Regions from separate parts of the Homo sapiens genome. Here region 2 is linked to region 1. Evidence: fine-mapped expression QTL. Tissue or cell type: blood mononuclear cells. Region 1 holds a variant in brackets; the other region holds the start of a gene. All regions are shown on one strand. Distances are from middle to middle.

Region 1 (2,679 bases):
AAGACTGGGTGACAGGCCGGGCGCAGGGGCTCACGCCTGTAATCCCAGCACTTTGGGAGGCTGAGATGGGCAGATCACTTGAGGTCAGGAGATCGAGACCATCCTGGCCAACATGGTGAAACCCCATTGCTACTAAAAATACAAACATTAGCCTGGCATAGTGGCGCACGCCTGTAATCCCAGCTACTCGAGAGGCTGAGGCAGGAGAATCGCATGAACCTGGGAGGCGGAGCTTGCAGTGAGCGGAGAGTGTGCCACTGCACTCCAGCCTGGGCAACAAAGCGAGACTCTGTCTCAAAAAAAAAAAAAAAAAAAAAACAAAGATTGGATTATGATATTCAGTATCTATGTACACATCCTATGGTGGGATGGCTATCCAAAAAAACAAGTAAAAAGCCAAAGGTACAGATAAAATTTCATTTCTGCGGAAAAGTAAAGCTCTTACTGAATGGAACAGGGAAGTGAGAAACTGCAGCCGGCCTGGCCAGGCGCGGTGCCGCAGACCCTGTCACACAGCTGCTCCCAGTTACGCAGCCTCTCCCTGTCACCCGCAGAGAGCAGCATCGGTGGCCGCTCAGAAGCCACGACCTACAAGTAACCCTTCAGACACGTTCAAAGCTCCTCGCCGAGAGCCTATCAGGCTTTTAAGAGTTGGTCATTCCATGTGAAAAGCTAATTGTGATCTTCGAATGTTTTTCTAGTCCTTGGCTCTCATTCTGCTATATATTTTACTTCTTGTTAAAGGCAAAACAAAACTTAAATTTCATGTCTTAGAAAAACATCGACCACACAATCAAATAAATAACATTGATAAGAGCCTTCTGGGGCAGCGGCGCACGGAGGCGAGTCCACAGCAGTCACTCTCCCGGCCCTTCTTTGGAAGCCCTGCTCTGACTGTGTCTCTGTGGGTCGCCGCGTGGGCCGGCGTGACCCCCCGGGGGCACAGGGCTGGCAGTGGCTGGCTCCAGCGGCGTCCACGAGGACAGAGACTCGTGCACCGTCAGGGCGTGCTCCTCCATCTGGCGCTGCAGGCTGTCCATCTCCTGCCTGGGACAGAAG[A/G]AGGAGGAAGAAGGCCCAGATCACACAAGTGCCAGGCAGAACGCGCCACCTGTGGACAGCGTCACTCGCTAGCACCTGAGTGGACCGGGGCGCCTTCGGGGATCCGCAAACCAACTGAGACCACAGAAGCTCAGCTGTTCTCAGCACCGTTCTCTACACTGTGCAGAGGACACAGGCTCAAGGACCAGTCCTGACCAGGCGGCAGGGTGGAAGCTGTCACTGAGGCCTGGCACACACGACTTCCACTCCGTTACCTGCCCTCGGGGCGCCGCCTGGCTCCGCCCTACACACTTCGCTCAGCCTCAGGCTGCCAGGTGCACCATGTGTGGCCTTCCAGCTTCTCAGGGCCTATCAGGGTAGTTTAACTCCAGGCAGTTTCCACCTATGAGTTCACAGGCTGTGTGTGCGAGTTCCCCCACCTTTATATAAACCTCAGAGGCTGTGCGAGTCCCCCTCCCACTTTATATAAACCGCAGAGGCTGTGTGAGTCCCCCTCCCCCTTTATATAAACCTCAGAGGCTGTGCGAGTCCCCCTCCCCCTTTATATAAACCGCAGAGGCTGTGAGTCCCTCCCCCTTTATATAAACCACAGAGGCTGTGCGAGTCCCCCTCCCCCTTTATATAAACCTCAGAGGCTGAGTCCTTCCCCCTTTATATAAACCTCAAAGGCTGTGTGTGCAAGTCCCTCCCTTATATAAACCTCAGAGGCTATGTATGCGAGTCCCCCACCCTTATATAAACCTGCTGAAACTCTGCTGGGCACTCAGTACTGGCACCAGGAGTGCCCTCCCAGGTAAGAGGGCATTAATCTTTAAGACTAGCTGAAGTGCAGCACGGAATACGGTCGTACTTGAGCTGCTGGAGGCAGCTGTTCAGGTTCTTGAGGGGCTCCTTGCTCACGGCGGGCGGTGGTCTCAGCAGCTCCTCCAGCAGCGAGGCGGGAACTGGGCAGTCCGGGATCTTGATGGGCGTGGCAGGGTTGGAAGAGCTGGCCTCGCCTTTCGGCTCCTTTCTCTGTTTTTAAAAGCACATGATCAGCTTTCCCACCGTCCCCTCCCTCGGGTCAGTCTCACTAGCACAGCTTGTGGCAAACGGGCCTCCCCAACTGGTGGACGTGGGGCCTCTGGGAAGGGGACCGTCCTGGCCGCCGTGGCAGCCCAGCACGACAGTCCCCGGAGCTCCAGAATAGCTGGCTGAGGAAACACCTTTATTCCTAAGGCACAAAACCAGAGCAAAGCAGAGACAACCTAAGTCCTGGGTCTGCGGCAGGACGGGGCCGAGCCACAGACTACAGCTCTCCCAGACGCTTCTCCCATCAGATACTCAAGACCTTGATGTGGAATTTCCGTAAGAAATTAAGTAAGTTTTCCAGCTTAGGCTCCCTTTTCTGGGACTTCAAACTTTTTCCACAGATAAGCACACGACGCTAAACGGCCTCTCAATCCGAGCGCTGCCCTCCCACCTGCCTCCTGGAAAACATGGATGTGGACCGAGCACAGAAAACCGCCGGGCGCCTGGGCACAGCTCCCGGGCCCCAGCCCTTCACACACAGCAGGGACTGCCGAGTCACAGACCACCGCTCATCTGCTTTACAAAGCACATTACAACAAAGTGGTATTT
Region 2 (2,679 bases), 55 kb after region 1:
CCACTTACCTGTGAGAGCCTGGGCTAAAGATTTCTTAATCACATTTAGCCTGTTTCCTCACCAGTAAAACAATGAGAAAATGAACGCAAAATTTTGCCAGGATTAAATATAACAAGGCACAGAGTCTGTCCCGTGTCCTCAATAAAATGACAGTAATTATCACGATTTTCCCTTTAGTTGTTGCTTGTCAAAATCGCTAAAAGCCAACTGAAGGCATTCTCACTTGGGAAAGTATGCTACTTCTTAAGGCAATCGGGGGAAAAAAAGCTCCTCTTCAATCTGAGTGATGTCAGATGATTTATTTCCTTCTTGCCATTTAAGGTATACTGCCTGAAAAGATATTAAAGGGTTATAAAGCGCTATGTTGATGTCGTTTAAAAGACAGTTCAAAATAATCCACGACGACGGGTGTGGCTGCTCACACCTGTAACACCAGCACTTTGGGAGGCTGGGGTGGGAGGATCGCTTGAGGCCAGGAGTTCCACACCAGCCTGGGCAATACAGCAACACACCCAGTCTCTTAAAAAAAAAAAAAAAATCCATGAGTCATCTGTAAATGGCTTACACTGGCCCAGTGACAATAAACTCCAACCTCTTAAGAATCCAGCACCTGCCTACACCAACATCCTTACCGCCATCGCTTTCCCCCTTTGCCATTACACTGTGGCCACATCCTCCGCCCTCAGGGTCTTCAAACTTTCTGCCTGAGGCGCGCTTTTCTCACAATTTTGCCTGGCTTGCTTCTCGTCATAGAGGCCTTAGCACGGAAGTCGCCCGCCCCCCAGGCTCCCACTTAGAGTAGCGGACCCCACCCAACCACCGCCCGGTACCCTCTCGCTGGCGACCCTGGGTGTCCCTGTCCTAGGTGGGCTCCGCGGGGGCAGTGACCCAGACCCACAATACCCAGGACCCGCCACACGACTGACATTCGTCGGGTTCATACCCGTGACAACGCCCGGCCCCACTCGCTCTGGCCACCTGGAATGAAGACAAGTCGGCCAGCGACAAAGACAAACAAGGAAGTACACGGACTCCTGAAACCCCGACTTCCCACGAACCACCCGACACCATGTCACGCCTTTCAGCTGCAAAGGGCCAGGCTAAAGCAAGCACTGCCCGAGTGGTGGCAGTGGACAGCTTCGGGACAGGCCGCGCTCGTCGGGCGCAGACAAGCATTCAGGAGGGCTCGCGGGCACCGGCATTTACAGAGCCAGCTCCGCCGCAGCTGAAGGCGGGCGCCCAGGCCCGAGGCCACCGCAGCGAGGCGGGGGTGACTGGAACGGGGCCGTCCCGCCACGCTGCAGGGACGCGCCCAGGCCCCGCCGCCGCCCCTCGAGCCTCCCCCGCCCATGCACTGCGGGAGCGGGAGCGGGAGCGGGAGCCCGAGCCCCGAGGCGCCGCGGCCTCCGAGCCCCTCACCCTGCTGCTCTGGCAGCCCCGGAGGCCGCCCGGCCCGGATGCTCCGGCGGAGACGTGGCCGTGAGAGGGGCGGGGCGAGCGGTGCATCGGCCTCGGGTCCCCGGAAACAGCCTGCACGCGCTACTTTCGTTCCGGAACAGAGAACGTCCTCCTCTTCTTCAAGTGGCCACCCTAGGGCCGGGGACCCTCTGCCCACAGGGTCCGGATCGAGCTCACCTCCGACTGTGATGAGGCCGCCTTCAGAAAGTGACCTTAAGAGTTTGCGGACCTTTCCCTAGTAGAAACGCAACTTCCGGAACTGCAGGACCAACTCTTTCAGGAAGCTGAACCGAGCTTCCGGCGGAAGTGGCGTGGCCGGGGCTCGGCATGGGCGCGGCCGAGCTCGGTGTGGGCGTGACTTCCCCGCCCGCCCTAGTCGGGTCCCCGCCCCAACCCCGCACCTCCACCCGGCCGGCGCCCTTCGCGCTTCAGGTGCCAGATCAAAGGCGACGCTGCTTTGGACCCTATTTGCTTCCCCTTTAAAAAGGGCAAAGCTGGACGGCGCGGGCCGCTGGCCGCTGGGGAACGGCTTTCCACCTTCCCTCATCCGCCAGGCCGCTCTTCCAGCTGTCAGGAAGGAAATGGCCTGGAGGGCGCCTCGGGGTCCTCTGTGATGTTGCGCTCATCTCTGCGGATTTTGGAATACGCTTCAGTCTACGAAGTTTTCTGGGATTTTGATGGGAACTGCTGCAGATCGTTTGGGGAGCACGGGCATCGCTGACTCGGTCCTTCATCTGCGTCCCTGGTGGCCCCTCCATTTATTTCGGTCTTTTGATTTCTTCCACCAGCATTTTGTAATTTCAGCATACAGATTCTGCACCTTTTAAGTTTATAGTATTTCACATCAAACAACTGTAACACTGCGTTTTTGACGTTTTCCACGTGTTCACTGTTGGTCTACACAAATGTGATGAATTCTATGTTGATTTTCTTATCCTGAGACCTCGCTGAACTCATTAGTTTGAGGGTTCATTTGGTGTTTTGCGGTTGTTGTTGTAAAATCCTTGTATTTTTTACATGGGCCATCATGTTATCTGCAAATGCAAATTCTAACACAAAATGATCAGACTGAGGCGTAAAATATACAACTTTTAGAAGAAAACAGAATTTCTCACATCTAGAGCTTGGGGAAGAGTTCTTAGATCTGACCAAAAAAACACAATTCACAAAAGAAGTTGATAGAGTAAACTTCATGAAAAAATTAGAAACTTTTCACCGGAT

What was found. PIP is the estimated chance that this variant, and not a neighbour inherited with it, causes the effect.
Region 2: GOLGA3 starts here. The variant in region 1 is fine-mapped to the expression of GOLGA3 in blood mononuclear cells (TOPMed, PIP above 0.99).

Annotation. Positions count from the first base shown.
Region 1 is chr12:132,772,248-132,774,926 of GRCh38, forward strand. GOLGA3 (golgin A3) reads right to left here. Exons shown (of 24, transcript NM_001389683.1): 23 at 1,910-2,073; 24 at 1-1,047. The coding sequence ends at 858. Among named protein-coding and RNA genes, the nearest start is that of ANKLE2, 12 kb to the left of the region's middle. The variant A/G (reference allele first, on the strand shown) is at 1,060.
Region 2 is chr12:132,827,384-132,830,062 of GRCh38, forward strand. GOLGA3 (golgin A3) reads right to left here and starts at 1,486. Exons shown (of 24, transcript NM_001389683.1): 1 at 1,420-1,486. RefSeq lists silencers at 764-863, 1,364-1,423, 1,794-2,003 and an enhancer at 1,574-1,713.